2 separate regions of the Homo sapiens genome follow, and region 2 is linked to region 1. The links come from fine-mapping of genetic effects on gene expression. A gene starts in region 1. The other region holds a variant in brackets. All regions are shown on one strand. Distances are between the middles of the regions.

Region 1 (2,850 bases):
CCTGGAAGGTGCTGGCTGGGACCGGAAGAACTCCTGCTTGGTGGAGGCAGAGCCCATGCAGCTTGTCTGCCTCATGCCCACGATCCACTTCCGGCCTGCAGAGAGCCGCAAGAAGAGCGCCAAGGGTGGGACAGCTCCCCAGGCAGGACCTGCCTGCCCCGTCCCTAGTTTGGAACTTAACCCATTCTCTGCTCCAGCCCATCCCACACCCGCTCCTGCCCTGCTCCTGCCCTGCTCTCCCGGAGGCTCCAGGGGTCTGACTTCTCCTCTCCTTTCCCCCAGGCATGTACTCCTGCCCCTGCTATTACTATCCCAACCGGGCAGGCAGCTCAGACCGAGCCTCCTTTGTCATCGGCATTGACCTGCGGTCTGGGGCCATGACACCTGATCATTGGATCAAGAGGGGCACTGCTCTACTCATGAGCCTGGACAGCTGAGACCTCCTCCTCTTCTCCGCTTGAGAGAGAGGGTCAGGGACTCCAGGAGCTAAGACAGATGTTGCACCTAGGACTGAGGCCGGACCTCACTCAGACTTTGACCTTGGCCGAATTTGTGTGATGTGGCCCTGGAGATACCTAGTTGTGTTAGCCATAAAAGTGAAAGAGTTGTATTGGAGCTCAGTGCTGTAAAACACCCGCGACAACAAGCCTTAAGTCTCTCAATGCAATGGTGAGGGTCTGGGGAGGGAGGAAGCCCAGGCCTCACGGAGGACAGAGCTACTGCGGAGCTGCTACTGGACGGGGAAAGAAGCGAGGGAGGTGGGGCGGCCTGGAGCGGAACGGAGGCGTGGCCCTGAACGAATGGGCAGGGCGGAGCCGCCTGAAGAGGCTGTGGCTTAAGTCTCCGGGCAGGACTTCAGTGGGTGGGGCGGGGCTTACCTTAGAAGGGCGCGTGATCCAAATGAGTAGGGATTTGTCAGGCAGGGATCAGGGCTGAACCCCGTACACTGCACCCTGAGGCCCGCACCCTGAAGCCCGCACCCCGCACCCGGCATCCTAGCCGGCACCCGCCCTGAGGCGAGCGGGACCGGCAGAAGACGGGGCGGAGCCGGAGAGGGGGACTAGAGCGCGAGGAGGGGCGGGACCACAAGGGGGCGGGGCTGGGGAGCGGGGGTGCGGGTGTTTGTGTTGGAAAATCCAACTGCGCCACTGGGCGGAGCGGCCCCCCCAGCCCCGGCCTGGGAGAAGGGGGGGCCGCTCGACCCCCTGGGATACCTTGGGGAGCCTGAACACCTGGGACCCCCCCCAGAACCAGGTAACGGGGAGCCGCGAGGACGTCTGTAAAGAGGGAAACCCTCTCCTTGCAGCAGGGCAGGACGCCTGAGTCTCTGGAGGGGTAGAGCTGGGGATGGACGTTTGGGTCTTGGGAAGGGCACTGGGAAGAAGACTGGGGCGGAGGTCATGGGTCCCCTAGAAGAGAGAACGGCGGGGAAGGAGGAAGAACTGGGAGGCAGATGTCTCAGGTTCCAAATGTCCAGAGGGGCCTGAAAGGACTCCCCGTTCCCCTTGGGCTGGGATTCCCCTTCCCGACTCCAGGGCGGGGCGGGGCGGGGCGCGGCGGTCCTTACTGAAGGGCAGGACTAAAGGGCAGAGTTTGCAGACAGGTCAATGCCATGGCCCAGTAAGGTCAGATGTGGTCAGACTTGGGTGTGTCCCGGTCCCAGGACTACTTTAAGTCTCCCTCCAGTTCTCTGCACGGGTGAGGTGTAGAAGCCTCAGCCTGACCTTCCCACCAGCGGCCCCGAGAGCTTCCCAGCGGTAGCCTTCGCCTTCTTCCCACCACCCCCCTGCGCCTCCCTTTCACTCCGTCTCGCCCCGCTAGCCTCCTCATCCCTAGTCCTTCTCCCACTCCGCCGTTCCCGAACCCTAGCGCGCCCCGCACGGCTTCTCGGTGCGGAGCCTTCCCAACGTAGCCACAAGATGGCGAGGGCGAGACGCACCCAGGGCAGGTGGGGGATGTGACCGTGAAAGTAGCTGAAGCCCCCCGCCCCGGTCCGAGGGAAAGGTAGGCTGAGGCCCCCACTTGACTTCCTGTGATCTGGGCCCCCTCACAGGAAATTGTGGGCAGGAGGTCGCAGCGCAGAAGACGGGGAGGGGGCTGGGGACTCAATCTCCGCCTCTCCCGGCTGGGGTAAATAGTGGGGAGGGGGGCACGCGGGGTGGTTGCTAAGCGACGTAGATTCGCTTCCTGTTTGCTGCAGCTTATGTTGTGACACTGGTGGGGGTTAGAGACAGCGGAGGGCCTGAAGACTGTGGGGAAGGCCGAGGGCAGGACGCCTGGTTCCCGGGACAGGAAGAGCCCTGGGAGGAAGGCGGGGAGGTAGCGAGCTGCGCCGCGACCGAAGGGGACTCGGTGGTTGTCCGGAGGGGGTTAGGGACCGAGGCGCAGCGTTGACCTCGGCTCCCCTTCCCTCCCCTGGGTTGCTTGTCCTGTTGCCAGAGTAACTGGAGGGCGAGACTTGGGAGCCGGATTCCCGAACTCTCCCGTCCGCCCAATCCGCTCCAGCGGTCGGCCCTGACGTCAGGGCCCTGGCAGCCAATGGGGAAGGGGGATGATAGCGACAGGAAAGGGAGAGGGGAGGGGCAGCGGCGGAGGCTGGGAGGCAGCAGCTGCCTGGGACCCGCACGTGCACTCCCACACGCTCGCGCCCACCCCCCGCCCTGCGCCGCACGCGCCCGAGCACCCCCTTGCGCCTGCGCGGCGAGCCGGGCGCCCCCCTCCCCTCGTGGAGTCTGTGTAAAGCCGCCTGAGGCTGCGCTCTTCAGCCCCTGGGGACCCACACGTCTCGGTCGGTCTGCACCGTTTCGCCGGTCGCGACCATAATGCCCAGCCTGGCTCGGGAGGGCCGAC
Region 2 (2,906 bases), 40 kb after region 1:
CTGGAAAATGAGTAGGGAAGTAGACACTGAGGGCAGTTAATGCTTTCAAGAGGCTTGGCTGTGAATGGACACAGTGCGGTAAGGTGGCAGCTAAAGGGGTCCAGAGTATTTCTTTCAAAGATAAGGAGATTTGAGCACATTTTAATGTGACTGGGAAAGAGCAAGTGGAATCGGAAATAAAGGACTGAGTTAGAGGATCGCTGCTAACCATTAGTCCCTGAGAAGGTGGCAGGGGTGAGACTAAGAGCCCAAGTATAGGCATTAGCTTCAGACAGGACAGGAGGACAGGATAAAAGGACAAATATGGATAGAGTTAAACATGTAGTTGAGTATTGGAATTTCAAGGGAGTTCTCATATGATAATCTATCTCCTGGAAGTAGATAAGATTTTCTATCCATTATGATATTAAAATGAACATAGGTATCCTTTTCTTTAAAATGAACTAGTGTAAGGAGAAGGTTTTGAGGAAGTCACTGTGGAGAACTAAAAGAAAGCTGACTAGGAAAAAGGATTCCTGAACAGAAACACTGGTCTGAATGGTCATGGTGTTTTCTTCAGCAGCCCTTTGCATCCTGGGTGTAAACAAGCAACCAAAGTGATACAAGGCCAGGGGTTTGCAGGAAGGAAAATAAGAAGAGGGCACCAAGACAGTGGCAGGAGCATGGTTAAAATGATAGACCATGGAACTTAAGCTGGATAGGAAAAGAGGTGAAGATGGTATAGCTGATTAGGAGAAAATGAGGAGCTAAGGGACTACATTGTCTCATGGTGGGTCCAAGAACAGAGTAGAAGTAAATGAGGGGGCTAGAAGGATAGAAAGTTGTGGCCCAAGTTGGGGGTTTGAATTTAATACTTCAAAAGGAAGTCCAGAGATGGGGCCAGAAGTGGGATGGCTAGAAAGGTCTCTGGAAATAAGGGGATCAAGGGACCAAAAAGTCTGGGTGATGAATAGATCATTCATGTGGATCCTAAGGTCACCCAAGATGATGGCAGGACTAAGCCAGATGTCAGTCTTCAATGAATGAAGGAAATGTCAGGAGATAAGTAGAAAACACTGAGGAAGAGAAGGTAAGGAGCACACAGCAAGACTGCTGCAGCCTTAAAGAAATAGGGGCTTCTTACACAAGATGAGGGAATCTGGAGGCAACAGTAGAGATAAAGAATTAGCCAGGTGCAGTGGCTCACACCTGTAATCCCAGCACTTTGGGAGGCCAAGGTGGGTGGATCACTTGAGGTCAGGAGTTTGAGACCAGCCTGGCCAACATGGTGAAACCCCATCTCTACTAAAAATACAAAAATTAGCTGGGTGTGGTGGCGGGCGCCTGTAATCCTAGCTACCTAGGAGGCTGAGGCAGGAGAATCGCTTGAACCAGGAGGTGGAGGTTGCAGTGAACCAAGATTGTGCCACTGCACTCCAGCCTCGGCAATAAGAGCAAAACTCCATCTCAAAAAAAAAAAAAAAAAAAAAAAATTAGGTCGGGTGTGGTGGCTCACACCTGTAATCCCAACACTTCAGAAGGCCACTGGTGGGAGGATCGCTTGAGGCCAAGAGTTTAAGACCAATTTGAACGACACAGCGAGATCCCATCTCTACAAAAAATTTTAAAACTATCCGGTTGTGGTGGTGTGTGCCTGTAGTCCAGCTACTTGGGAGGATGAGGGAGGAGGAAAGCTTGAGCCTAGGAGTTCGAGGCTGCAGTGAGCTGTGATCACGCCACTGCACTCCAGCCTGGGTGACAAAGCAAGACCCTGTCTCTAAAACAAAACA[A/T]AACAAAACAAAAAACCCTCCATAAGTAATATTTTAATGGTTTCTCACAATCTTTAATTGATATTTAACTTCCTCACTAAAACTGGCTTTAAAGGTGACCAAATGACAAGTACAATACTTTTCTTGGTTTGTACTGTTTTTTTTTTAGAGACAGAGTCTCACTGTGTTGCCCAGGCTGCAGTGCAGTGGTGTAATCATAGCTCACTGCAGGCTCCAGCTCCTGGGCTGAGCTCTCCTCCTGCTTCAGTTTCCTGAGTAGGTAGGACTACAGGCATGAGCCACCATGCCTGGCTAATTTTTAAACTTTTTTTGTAGAGATAGTCTTGCTATGTTGCTCAGGCTGGTCTTAAACTCCTGGCCTCAAGCGATCCTCCTCTCTTGGCCTCCCAAAGTGCACTGGGATTACAGGTGTGAGTCACTGTATTGGCTGGTTTGTATTAAAAAGAAATTCAGATAGAATTAATATACCTTATTCACCATTTTAAAGTGAATTCAGGGGTTTTTAGTATATTCACAAGGCTGTGCAACTATCACCATTATCCAGAATTCCAGACATTTCCATCACCCCCAAAAGAAACCCCATATCCATTAGCAGTCCCTCCCATTCTTCCCTTCCCTGAAACCTGCACAACCACAGATCTACTAGTTGCCTATTCTGGACATTTCATATAAATGGCATCAAATAATATGTGGCCTTTTATGTCTAACTTCTCTTACTTAGCATAATGTTTTCAAAGTTCATCCATCTTATAGCATGTATCAGTATTCCATTCCTTTTTACGGCTGAATAATATTCCATTGTATGGATATACTATATTTATCCATTCATCAGTTGATGGATATTTTTGTTTACACTTTTTGGCTATTATGAATAATGCTTCTATGAATATTCATGCACAACTTTATGTGTGGACATATGATTCAATTATCTTGGGTGTACACTTAGTATTGAAATTGCAAGGTCATATGGTAGCTCTATATTTAACTTTTTGAGGAACTGTCAGTTTGTACTCTTCTTGATTCCCACGAAGCATCTAGTATCAATGATCATGCCTTCCTTCTGAAGCTGTCTGCCTACTCTACCATAACAACACTACCTGGTACACTTAACACTTGAACAACTTGTTTTTCTTTGGC

Evidence for each region. PIP is the estimated chance that this variant, and not a neighbour inherited with it, causes the effect. A credible set is the group of variants that fine-mapping cannot tell apart.
Region 2: its variant is the best candidate, but not a certain one, in a credible set for the expression of KDM6B in whole blood (INTERVAL, PIP 0.55).

What each region holds. Positions count from the first base shown.
Region 1 is chr17:7,833,097-7,835,946 of GRCh38, forward strand. It overlaps KDM6B (lysine demethylase 6B), which reads left to right and starts at 1,121. Exons shown (of 24, transcript NM_001348716.2): 1 at 1,121-1,254. DNAH2 (dynein axonemal heavy chain 2) reads left to right here. Exons shown (of 86, transcript NM_020877.5): 85 at 1-125; 86 at 283-646. The coding sequence ends at 437. LOC124904106 (translation initiation factor IF-2) reads right to left here. Exons shown (of 4, transcript XM_047437265.1): 4 at 2,312-2,850. The coding sequence ends at 2,521. RefSeq lists enhancers at 213-824, 1,455-1,954 and silencers at 1,093-1,252, 2,503-2,850.
Region 2 is chr17:7,873,438-7,876,343 of GRCh38, forward strand. It overlaps a transcript of NAA38 not described here. Among named protein-coding and RNA genes, the nearest start is that of CHD3, 14 kb to the right of the region's middle. The variant A/T (reference allele first, on the strand shown) is at 1,770.